Homo sapiens: one gene and its partner. The protein of the gene in region 2 purifies or fractionates together with the protein of the main gene of each other region. This does not show direct contact. Each region holds a gene or a part of one and is shown on either strand. Other genes may lie near its edges. The genes, in order: SCAF11 and U2AF1.

Region 1 (7,291 bases), on a different chromosome or scaffold from region 2:
GAGACTATGTATCTATCTATCTATATATACATACACTCTAGTTGAAGCAATTCTAAAGTTAAGTCATTGTCCAAATATTTATAGACGTATTTACAAGTTACTATGCCTTACTTTACAGCTTTTCTAAGTCATCAAACACACATTTTTATGAAACTGGAAGAAACTAATAATAATAATTTTTAAAATAGAAAATGATTTCACAAACTTTACCAAAATGTTCGAAAGATATGGTACTTGTTGGAAAAATAGTTCTTGGCAACACAGAAGAAATGAGAGGAAGGACTTCTGTTTCAACATTCCAGGGTATAAAACCAATTCTGAAAACATAATAAAGACATTTTTGTTTAAATGGTTTAAAAAATTAAACCACCAATTTAAAAGTATTAATTCTCTAAATCAGGTTAGCAATATTAAAATACAGTGCTTAAATGTTTTTTGCCCAAATAGCTAAAAATGTAAATTCAAGGTTACTCCTTGTCTAAAGATAGCTACCAATTGGCTAAAATTCAGAAAAAAACCTTTAAAAGTATGTTTTTCTGATAAATTCATGGCAAAGAAAAGATGAAAGCAACTTAACACAGATGTTTCTCTTTGAAATAATTTATGTAGTATTTTGTCAAGAATTTTTCCAGCTTTCATCATGTTCTTCACTACTCTAAAAAAATAAAATCAACTTTGAGGTGTAATTCAACATAAAATGCAGACTTTAAGCGTACATTTGCTAACTTTTTACCAAAGTGTGTGCATATATATATATATATGTCTGTGTTAACCACCACCCCAATCAAGAAAGAGAACATTTCTGCCCCCCTAGAAAGTGTCCTCACACTCCTTTGTATCCTTCTCCCTCCTTTCCAGGCAACCAAGGAACTGATTTATACCACTATGTTATATTCTAAAATTCCTCGACCTGGTGATGGCTCTTCAAAGTTCTCAGTGTCCCTAGAGACCTGTTAAGACCCCCTCCTTCAAATTTTCTCCATTCAAACCCAAACCACTTCTTGGCTTTCTTTTTCTTATTCATTTAGGTCTCCTAACAAAAGACTATCTGATTCAATATAAGGTAAGATTCTGGAGTAGGAGAAGCATGGGAAAAAAAATGTAACTTGTACATGTATAAAAATATGTAACTATAAGGAAGGGTTTCATAGTACATACATCTGGAATTCTTCATCTGACTTCTATTATGTTCTGCCATCATTCTTAGAGGGTGAATGCCCTATACAGAACTATATTATAGTGACATATAAAATAAAGTCATAATATGTTATAGGAATTAATATAAAACTCAGGCAGCGACCCTAATCTTTACTTAGGAGCTTGATTTAAGTATATATTATTTATCTAGCACCATCTTAGTAGCTTCAAGAATAAACTAAGAAATAAAAAACTAGATTACAGAAAGTCATGAGTGTCAGGGTAGAGTAGGCACTTGATCAAATAGTTATTTAGAAAAACATTTTTGAGGAGAGGAATATGGTAAAAGCGTGATTCAGCGGACAGCACGCAGGTAAGACTGGAATGGGAGAAGAGTAGAGGAATGATGACAGATGTATTACTAACAATAAATCTTAATATTCGGGTTCTCTCCCTTTTAAATAAATCTAGCATATACACAGCTATACTTGTTAAACAGATAAATTAAGGATTCTTTACTTTCTAAGGGGTCCTTTATATAGCAATCTTTATTGGGCATTTGAAACACCAAAGTTTAATTTGCACAAAACTTCCTTAGGAAAATAACAATTGAATAAGGTACCCTTGTACTTAAGTACTAATGCTATCTTGTTCATGTTAGCATGTAAACACCTGAGTAAATAATTTTTTATTTTTACCTTCCAATTCCAGGTAATGTATCAGGAAACCATGACAATTCCAGTTCATGTCTCTTCTGCCTAATCAATGCACTGATTTCACTGGCTTCTATAAATTCTGTACTAAAAGATAAATTTTAGACCTTCATCAGAATCTCACAATTTTAGGTTCAAAAAAACAATTAGGTTGTACAAAGAATAGCAGTCGTTTTTGTACCTGGCATTATGAATCACACTTACAAGCATGTGAGCTCTTTTCTATTTAAACACTTTCAAAATAAACTCATTCCTAAAATAAGTACAATTTTTATATTGCAAATCAGAGTTGTATTTATATGATTGTTAAAAATAACCCTTGAATTTCTATCTTAAGTGACAGAATTTTTTAAATAAAGTCAAGTCAGAGTAATATCCTCATTATTGAAAGGAAGAAATTCTAGGTGCAATAGTTTCCTACTTGAAACTAAGCCTAAGACAAAAGAAGAAAATAAAGTAGGGTAAGATGACTGCAACCAAAAATGGGTATAGTTCAGCTTTTCAAAAGCCTACTTAGACATAATTTTTTTCTTGGTACCTTGCCAAGTTCTAAAATTAAATCACACAATCGTATTCTGTGCTGCTGGCTCAACTAACTGTACGTGATTTTAAAACCTCAATTTAATCTTCAAATTCCATAAATATCAACTTAGTATCTACATGCCAGTCACTAGGATTCAAAGATGAATGGATCAGCTGTAAAAGGGTTCTTCTTTAGGTAACATCCCCACAAGCTAATAAATAAGCTACTTCTCAATCATATAAACAGCTTATATAGAACAACTTATTAATGAAAACAAAGCACACTGGCATAGGCAATCACTGCACAATAGAGAAGCTCCCAAAATTAACAGGTTTTCTCTTTGCTAGAGCTAGTTTACCTTCCCCCCCGCCCAAAAAAAAACTAAAGCAAAACAACCAGGTGGGCCTTTCAGTTTTTATTGGGCCCAGAGTTTAAATTTCTAGCAAAAGTTAATAATTATTAAACATCAAGTATAAACAGCATAAATTAAAAGTAGAAAATACTAACCAATAAGCTCTATAGGTAAAGGAAGATTCTCCAGAGTGGCTAACAGAAGAAAACATATTGGAGAAAAAATTTCTGAAGCACTGATTTGTACTCCAATTTGATCTCTGAGGCTAGAAAAGTAAAAAGTAGTTAGTGAAACAGCAAATAAATAACAGGTAAATAATAGTTATACTTAAATATTTTGATACACCTGAAGCACTGGTTATTTATGGACTAAATAACCCTAAAGTGTTATCATCTAAGAAAAAGATTTTTCTTGGTTTCAACAAACCTTATTTATCTTTATTGCTGCATTTTTCTTTCCTCCTGTTTCACTGTATAAAGAGTTTCCTGTACAAAGACATAAAAGGACTTGGTTACCTTGTATTAATTTTTATTAAAAAGGCTGTAAACCAGCATCGATACCAGCACATTGGCAAGGGTTGAAATACGTAGAAAAGCTGTATTTCAAATAATACACAATTTTTTACACAATTTTCCCAAATGCTGATTTCATCTTACCTTGTTAAGCTATTACTACAAGTAAAATATAAAAGGCCACAATACAGAAACTGGGTGAAGTATGTCAAACCTGCTATGTTTACAACATATGAGTTAAAATTCTAATCAACATTTTCTGCTACCTTATGCAAACTTAAAGTATCTTGTAACAAAAGGTATACACAAGAAGTCAAGCTATTTAATATCAATAATACACTTAACATTTCTTTTCCAGCTATCATCTAGAAAACAGGTAGCTATCTCAAGCAGGGGCTGACTAGGTGGCCTGGGGCCATCAGCTCTTGTTAACCATAAATTACCATTTAGCCACTGGCACCCACTTCAGGTATGTTCTTTCCTTCCAATTTTATACTAAGATGGAAAAGTAGATGTGCTGACTGAAACAGCTTTCTGTTACAACGTTGGTGGCTGCATTGCTTATGACTTGTCCACAGTGCATATGACAACTGCCTTTTAATTTTCCCCCTTGCTTGCCTCACAAAGGGCCTATTGACATTGTTCAAAATAAATCACACTAACTAGGAGGCTTGTTTCCTGCACTGCAAGATCATATGTATTTTGGTTTACTTCTGTTAGTTCAGTTGGTAATAGCCTACTTTCTACTTAATAGCATACTAATTTCCTTTTTAGTTATTATACAACAGCTGTTTGGTTTTGCACAAGTCCCTCTCAGAACTACTGTAACAAATGTAATTTCAATGTTAGTGGAAGACGAACAGGCTGAGTTCCGGAACTTACTGCCTTACCCCTTTGAAAATCTGTATCTAAAAGATGATACGCTGATTTTTTAAAATGGCTTAAGAGGCAAGAAGTAAAAATGTGTGGTAGGTACACAGATAACACTCTTAGAAATAACCATGTTCCTTCAGCTAGACATAGAATTGCTGTGCTATACCTACATAGTGTCTTTTATGCCCTAAGGATGCTGAGTTGTTTTGTTTCAGGTTGCATTCACTCAACACTTAACGAGTATGTAGTGTTTACATAGCATTCTTTCATTTGGAAACCTATCTCAGAAAGCCATCATTAGATAAAATGCTCTCTACTGAAAGAACTGTTAGTTTTCTCTGAGCAATGCTACATGTGAAAATCCAGTTCAAAAGCTGTTTCACATATTTCTGGGTAATTCTCAGGTAATTACTCAACAGCTTCAATGGCAATCTCTAAAGTATTCGATACTGGTGAATTTGTCTAAATTGTGGTTTCCTGAAGATCGTTTCACAAATCCACCCTACTTGTCTGTTTTTGGTGGGCAGTGATACGCCTTTTCATTTAATTTTTATCAAAGTAATGCATGTACATACTTTAAGATGTCAAACAGTACTTCCAAACTTATAAAGAAAAATTATGGAAATACCCACTCTTGATTTCTGCTTCCCCAAAGCACTCATCAAATCCTTTGGCTGTTTCTTCTAACATTTACTTATTACTAAATAACACCCTTATACTACTCTATGTGTGGTTTTTTTTGTTTTTTTTTTTTGAAACAGAATCTCGCTTTGTTGGCCAGGCTGGAGTGCAGTGCCACAATCTCGGCTGACTGCAACCTCTGCCTCCCAGGTTCAAGCAATTCTCCTGTCTCGGCCTCCTGAGCAGCTGGGACTACAGGCGCACACCACCACGCCCGGCTAATTTTGGTATTTTTAGTAGAGATGGGGTTTCACCATATTGGTGAGGCTGGTCTTGAACTCCTGACCTCAGGTGATCCACCCACTTCGGCCTCCCAAAGTGCTGGGATCACAGGCATGAGCCACCACGCCCAGCCAGCTTCATTCAGGTATTTTCCTAGGGTTAATAATGTCTTTGTTTTCTCTTTTCCTTTTCTTCCTTATTATCCATCATTAATTTAGCTAACTACAACAAAAGTATAAATCTGAGTTTAATACACTCAAACACAACAACTCATCCATAAGGTTTGTTCCCCACTCTCCTGGCAAAACTCTTTCTTTGTCCTGGTCCAATATGAACTGGTAACTCTCAAAGCTGCTGTTCAATAGTCATTTTGGGATTGTCCTTTGTCATTATCCCAATAATCCTCTTTGTCCTGTTTAATCTTTTCCTGAGTTGGAACTCATTTTCTGAATCTCACATTGTTCTTCCATTTACTATCTCATTTAGTGAAGTATATACATACATCCTCCAGCAGAAGTGGAAAAGGGTGGGAATTCTGAGTTAGTGCACGATGGATAGTTTGATAGGTTATAGAATTGTCTAGGTTAGTAATTATTTTCCCTAGAGTTTTCAAGGCATTGCTTCACTACTCCAACTATTGTTGATGACACTCTGTAACCCCAATCCTCTATGTGGTCTGTTTTTACTCTCTCTCTTGTCATCCTCAGACTTCTAGAACTTTATGAAGTATTTGGTATGATTTTTTTTTCATTTACTAAGTATTATATTATTTCTTCATATCTGGACACCTGTGCTCTACTATTACGGAAAAAATTTCCTTTGTATTACTTTTTTAAAAATAAATTTTTGCATTTTTCCTTCCTGAAATTTTATTATTCGATATTGAATCTCTTAAATGAATATCCTATCATCTCTTTTTTAGTCCTACTTTGAGACTTAAGAACTTATCTTCTACTCCTGTTGAATTTTTGTATTTTTGCTGTAATATTTTTAACTTCTGAAAGCTTTTTCTTAAATATTATTTTTCTTGTATCATTGATAAAATATCCCTTCTTTCAGGCTTTGAGGATATTAAGTTTTTTAAAGTTATTCCCTATTTTTCAGCATTGGGTCTGTCCCATCAGGTTGCTTTTGTCTTTGTTTTGATCTCTATTATGTTGATTTTCCTCAAACATCTGGAGATCCTTGATTGTTTGCTGGACACTAAAATATTGATTGAAAATGGTGTAGATGGGTGGTCAGAGCCTTTCAGCTAATGTGTTTCACTGTAGGGTGATCAAGCAGACATCTGGTTACTTCATTGGGAGACTCTCAAATGACATTATCTTTAAGTCTTTTCTTTTGGGCAAGTCAGTTTTCCAAAAGATGTCCCTTATTTCCTACTTTGGAAAATTATAATAATCAAGACTGCCAGTGCTTTGAAAAATGCTCTTAGGTAGAGGACTAGAAGCCTCATCATTTGACTTAATTTCCCTCTCTGTTGTTTCCTGTACCATCATTTATGCTAAAGTTTAAATCTGGTTCAAATACTCATTTTAGAGTGTAAATCTCCAGTCTTTCATTGGGTACTCCCCTTCCTCTACCCACAGCCAGGAATCTTCAGGATCTAAAGATTTTTAACCAATTCTGTTTTCCAAAACCACCCCATATCTCTGCCTTCACAGATAATGGAGGCCTCCAAACTCAACTTGCTAAGGTTTGATGGTATGTGTACTGTCTTGAGATTCTTAACTCCATTCTTCCCATGAAATGTCTATGTATCAGCTTTCTGCTAAGACAATTTACCATCCCCCTCATACTGTTTTACTTTCTATTTTGTGGACACTTATGTGCTGTCCCCCTCTCTCCAGCTTTCTTGTCTTTGTGGCTTAAACTTTGTGGCTTAAAACTCTTCTTTCTGGCCAGGCACAGTGGCTCACAACTGTAATCCCAGCACTCTGGGAGGCCGAGGTTGGCGGATCACCTGAGGTCAGGAGTTCGAGACCAGCCTGGCCAACATGGTGAAACCCTGCTCTACTAAAAATACCAAAATTAGCCGGGCATGATGGCGGGCACCTGTAATCCCAGCTACTCAGGAGGCTAAGGCAGTAGAATCACTTGAACCTGGGAGGCGGAGGTTGCAGTAAGCTGAGATTGTGTCACTGTACTCCAGCCTGGGTGACAAGAGCGAGACTGCATCTCAAAAAAACAAACAAACAAACAAACAAAAAACACACTTTTCTTTCATTCCTTTATTGTCATTTTAGTAGAGATTTGGGATGAGAGGGATCACAGCATT
Region 2 (5,406 bases):
CTGTCACCATAGTCACACCACCAGCACGCGCCACCCGAGTAGCTTGGGGAAAGTAATACCAGAGTGTCTAAAGGCGGATCTGCACCGCAGGCTTCTGTGTCTCCCACAGCCATTGGCATAAGGAAACACGGACACGGACTACTGGCCCTCAGTGTGCCGTGTGAGCATCCACGCTCCCTCCCACGAACACATGGGGTTCTTGACACAAACTCGCAGGAACGAGAAGGTAACATGGGTCGGGCCCACCCACTGTGTCTCACCACAGATCAGCCTTCTTCCCAACATCAGTGCAGTCTACAGCGTGTCTACTGATTATAGCTAAGCACTTCTTCACTAACCAGTTAGAAAAGAAACCCCAAAAGGCTTTCCATGACAGCCTCGAGAAATTCCGGATTATTTAGCATGTAGATCTCACCTGGTATGTGTTTTATTTCATGCCCTAAGATAAAAAATATTATTTCATTTATACTCAAAGTGGTGGATGGATATTAATCTTTACCTCCAAGATGACTAGCAGATTTATAAAGAAAAAGAAATTTAAAGAACTTCCACAAGAAATAAGTTACACCAAGAATACTGTTATCACTACAAATTTTATTCAGAAACCCATCTTTGTATGTTTTTTTTTTTGTTGTTTTTTAAAAAAAATTCCCCTTATGAACTGGTTTGGTCAATCAACTACAACACTTTCTAGCAGACATAAGGTAAAAATGGCATGGCTCAGAATCGCCCAGATCTTTCACGATCTCTCGACCGCCTCCTGTCACGCTCCCGTCCGCCGCCACCTCCACCACCGCCACCGCCACCGCCACGACCACGGTCTCTAGACCGAGAACGACGCTCCCGGGATCGGGATCTTGATCTATGCCTGCAACCAAGGAAAATAAAGAAAACCGTGCCATCCAAACCACGGCACGCAGCACAGAACCACACCCACTCTCTCAACACGCGCAGCTCCTCAAGCCAACGGCACTGATAAGGAAAAACACTGCTGAAGAGACTGCACGCCGTGACTGAGACACACCCTGATTTCAGGTGTGAAAAGTTTCAGGAGAAAAAAATGTGCAACTTAGAAGTGAACAGGTGTAATACCTTGCATCTTCTGTCTTCTTCTAGAACCAACTCAAATGGTCACAGGAAATCATAATCAAAATGAGCTGGACACATACCATCTTCAACCCTCACTGACCCCACGCTTCAGGCGCTCATAGCTACTGTGTCCATCAGGTTTTTGGGCTGGGGAGAGCAGGCCTGTTTTTCTCTTATGCTTCTTGAATGCTGACAATAAAACAATCGCCACCCATCTATTTACTAGTCCATGTTTAACAGAAGAGGGATGAGAACCTCTCCAGACTCAGAACTCAATCGGTTCGATTCTGACGTCTTGATTTTCTCTGCTCTGTGACCTGTCGTACATTTAAATGTAGGATCAGAGAGATGTGACCGCTGGGCCTGATTCTGCCAGTGTCCCGAAGGGAGGATGCCAGCGATCCCAAGACATAATGAAATGCCCTAAAACCAACAAGCAAAACCAAAAGAAACCCCAGTGGACATGTGAAATATGTAAAGCAAAAGCTTGTCCAACCTGCAGCCCAACACAAATTCATCAACTTGCTTAAAACATTATGAGATTTTTTTTGCAATTAAAAAAAAAGTTATCAGCTATCATTAGTGTATTTTATTTGTGACCCAAGACAATTCTTCTTCCAATGTGTCCCAGGGAAGCCATCCCTGATCTAAAGGAGGTTACAACATCTATTCTTCTTCTTCGTAATATCTGGGAGAATAAACTGCATGCCCACTTTCACCACGAGCCTCATGTCCGCGGCTGCCCAGCTAACCGCCCTCTTGCTTGATTACTAAGATCTGATCTCTACTTGAGAAGTTGGATAATGAAGTTACCTGTGTGCAGGTGAATATTCTTCTCCAAAGAGGACATTTGGATATTTAAAAATATGTACTATGTTCTAAGCACTGCCTTTTAAAAAACAGAAACGACACCTATGCCAAAATTTTTTTTTTGGAAGGGGGAGGGTTGTGAGGGGAGAAAGAAGCCACTGAGCTTAACAACGGGCACAGGAATACTCACTTCTTGCGACGGCGGCCATACAGCTCCCGCCGCAGCTCTCTGGAAATGGGCTTCAAATGCATGAAGTTGCAGAAGCCGCCTCGTGTGCATTCTCTGTGGGTGGGTTGGAAGGAGACATTTACTACCTCGTGTGCACACGGCCCCGAACTGTGCTCAGTCACGTCACTGGCCACTCCTCACTCACCCCATCTCATACTGACGGCAGCAGGCTTCTCTGAAGTCCGTCACGGGTGACAGCTCGGCGTGGATCGGCTGTCCATTAAACCAACGGTTATTCAAGTCAATCACAGCCTTTTCCGCATCTTCCTCACGGCGAAACTGAAAAGACAAAAACAGAAGTGCTTGCCATCCACGCTTTAATAAGACTTTCTCAATTACCAATCCAAGTATATCAGAGAGAGATATACACACTCAGGTATAGTAAGGTGGAATAGTATTACAGGATAATTGAAAAATCCTTTATTTTCAATGAGATTAACTTCAAGATAGTCCAAGATTTTGCCAAATGTTGCCTTCATTTTTCAAATTCAACTGGTTAAAGGAGCAAATATGGCTGTGTAGGCAAATAAAGTTTTATTCACTAAAAAAGAAAAAAGAAACCAAACATGTGAGTAAACCTAACTTTTCCTTAGTCCACACAGCTTCTAAACCAACAGGTACTAAATATTCTACACTGAAATAACGATGGCTGTGGTGTACGGTCCGTCCTTCAGTTCTGCTGGCTGGGCGCACGTGTGGGCTGGCCACCGCCACATATGACGCAGCTGGTAGGCGCCGAGCCAGTGCACCTGAGCCCTGCTGTGCGCCTGAGCATCCAGGATCTCAAGGTGCATGGCGACAGGCACCCCATCCTCTGTCGGCCTTGGCCCCGGCACACTAAGCGGCTGCACCACTGTCTCGCTTTCGCCTGTTGGCCTTGGCCCTGGCACACTAAGCGGCCACGCCGCCGTCTCGCCCTGGCTCCTACCTTGACGTACACGTTCCCCACCAGGTGGTCTCCCAGGTTGTCACAGACGTTCATCTCCTCTACTTCCCCATACTTCTCCTCCATTTCTGTAAAAACCTCCTGAAGGGAGACCACAGTGGTTTAAGACTCGTTATACATTACAAAGTGTCATTAGATATAACTCATGTATGTTTATTAGCAGAGAAACATTTTAAATCCTTCCAAACAGATACAGAAGATCAACAGGTCTATCAGTCACAGAGTTCAGTTCTCTCACCTCAAAAAACTCATCATAGTGTTCCTGCATCTCCACATCGCTCACGGCACCTGCAAACAACAGAAATCTTGCTGGTTAGAACATGTTAACCGAGTGAACTCTTGTGTTTAAACTCAAACTGCTACAGTAACACACACGAGATTATCTAGAGAAAAGCCTGGCAGAGCTGCACTCTGCAGGAGCACTCAGGAGACTGAGCCACATGGCTACTTGTGAATGGTGTCAAGTGTGGTGAGATTTTAAATGTCCCCATGACAGTCTCGATTCTGGCTACTAAGGTGTTAAAATCACAACCAGCTTTAATCAGCATCAAAAGGGCCACATTTTCAGAAACTGTGAGGAAAAAGTTGACTCTCAAACTACAAATTTTTTTTTTACACCCACAAGATGCAGTCTGGCTCTGTCGCCCAGGCTGGAGTGCAGTGGCACCATCTCAGCTCACTGCAACCTCCACCTCTGGGGTTCAAGCGATTCTCCTGTCTCAGCCTCTGGAGTTGCTGGGACTACAGGCGACTGCCACCACGCCCGGCTAATTTTTTTTTTTTTTTTTAATTTTTAGTACAGACAGGGTTTCACCACGTTGGCAGGCTGGTCTTGAACTCCTGACCTCAAGTGATCCGCCTGCCTTGGCCTCCCAAAGTGCTGTGATTACAGGCGTGAGACACCGCACCTGGGCTCAAACTAAGAAATATTAAAATTTTCTTCCTTTTAAGATTTAGAGTAAAGGCCAAATAAGCACACTGATGTCTTCCCCTCTTCTATAAGTTTAAAATGAAACCTGAAAGCAGGGTCGATGATTAAAAGCTGATGTTCCTAACTAGTCTTTTATGGACTGCCAGCCATGGTATGCTCTCAAATTCTTCTGATGTGATTAAAATCCAAGCAACCATGAAGATTCAGTAGGACAGTTCACGCAACCTTACGGTATTGTGGACGCCCTCAAGTAAAGGGAATGTTACAATGTTTTGCTGATGAAAGCATTCTTTTTTTTTTCTTTTTTTTGAGACGGAGTCTCACTCTGTCGCCCAGGCTGGAGTGCGGTGGCGCAATCTCGGCTCACTGCAACCTCCGCTTCCTGGGCTCATGCGATTCTCTGCCTCAGCCTCCTGAGTAGCTGGGATTACAGGCGCCCACAACCACGCCCGGCTAATTTTTGTATTTTTAATAGAGATGGGGTTTCACCATCTTGGCCAGGCTAGTCTTGAACTCCTGACCTCGTGATCCACCTGCCTCGGCCTCCCAAAGTGCTGGGATTACAGGTGTGAGCCGCCGTGCCCGGCGCAAGTATTCTTAAGTTTTATATTCCCAAACTATTTTCATCAGTTTATTCTTCATAATTCACATGTATTAGGTAAAATCATGTCTGTTGCGTGGGTAAATTTGGCAAATTTACACTCTATCCCCATCATCATTCTATCAAATTTAATTAATTTTTTTTTCTTTTGAGATGGAGTCTCTGTCCACTCCAGGCTGGAGTGCAGTGGCGTGATCTTGGCTCACTGCAACCTCCACTTCCTAGGTTCAAGCAATTCTCCTTCCTCAGCCTCCCAAGTAGGTGGGACTACAGGCGCGCACCACCATGCCTGGCTAATTTTTGTATTTTTAGTAGAGACGGGGTTTCACCATGTTGGCCAGGCTGGTCTCAACCTCCTGACCTCACGTGATCTGCTTACCTCAGCCTCCCAAAGTGCTGAGATTACAGGCATGAGCCACTGCCCCCGGCCCACTCTATCAAATTCTAGAGTTCTCTAAACCTGAGAAATCACAGAGCTGGTGTATCAACAAACATGTTCCAATCAGCTAGATTAGGGGCTGGCAAAAGCCTGACTGGTTTCCAGATTGGGCCGGCTGCCTTAGCCTGTGCACCCAACGTGGGCATCTGACTGCTGGCACACGGGTCTTTGAGCTTGCTCAAAACTCTTTTTATCTTTTTTTTTTTTTTTTTTGAGACGGCGTCTCACTGTCTCCAGGCTGGAGTGCAATGGCGTGATCTTGGCTAATTTTTGTAGTTTTAGTAGAGACGGGGTTCCACCATGTTGGCCAGGATGGTCTCAATCTCTCGACCTCGTGATCCACTTGCCTCGGCTTTCCAAA

Evidence for each region.
Region 1: the proteins of U2AF1 (region 2) and SCAF11 purify together in Homo sapiens (affinity purification with mass spectrometry, with the first as the bait; 2 studies listed by BioGRID). This does not show direct contact.

What each region holds. Positions count from the first base shown.
Region 1 is NC_000012.12:45,931,296-45,938,586, forward strand, and holds part of SCAF11 (protein SCAF11), read right to left. Parts: intron 3,211-7,291; coding exon 3,152-3,210; intron 2,991-3,151; coding exon 2,881-2,990; intron 1,938-2,880; coding exon 1,836-1,937; intron 318-1,835; coding exon 211-317; intron 1-210. UniProt on the Homo sapiens protein: Plays a role in pre-mRNA alternative splicing by regulating spliceosome assembly.
Region 2 is NC_000021.9:43,092,382-43,097,787, forward strand, and holds the end of U2AF1 (splicing factor U2AF 35 kDa subunit), read right to left. Parts: intron 3,363-5,406; coding exon 3,313-3,362; intron 3,156-3,312; coding exon 3,057-3,155; intron 2,408-3,056; coding exon 2,274-2,407; intron 2,183-2,273; coding exon 2,090-2,182; intron 869-2,089; coding exon 721-868; 3' UTR 575-720; downstream 1-574. UniProt on the Homo sapiens protein: Plays a critical role in both constitutive and enhancer-dependent splicing by mediating protein-protein interactions and protein-RNA interactions required for accurate 3'-splice site selection. Recruits U2 snRNP to the branch point.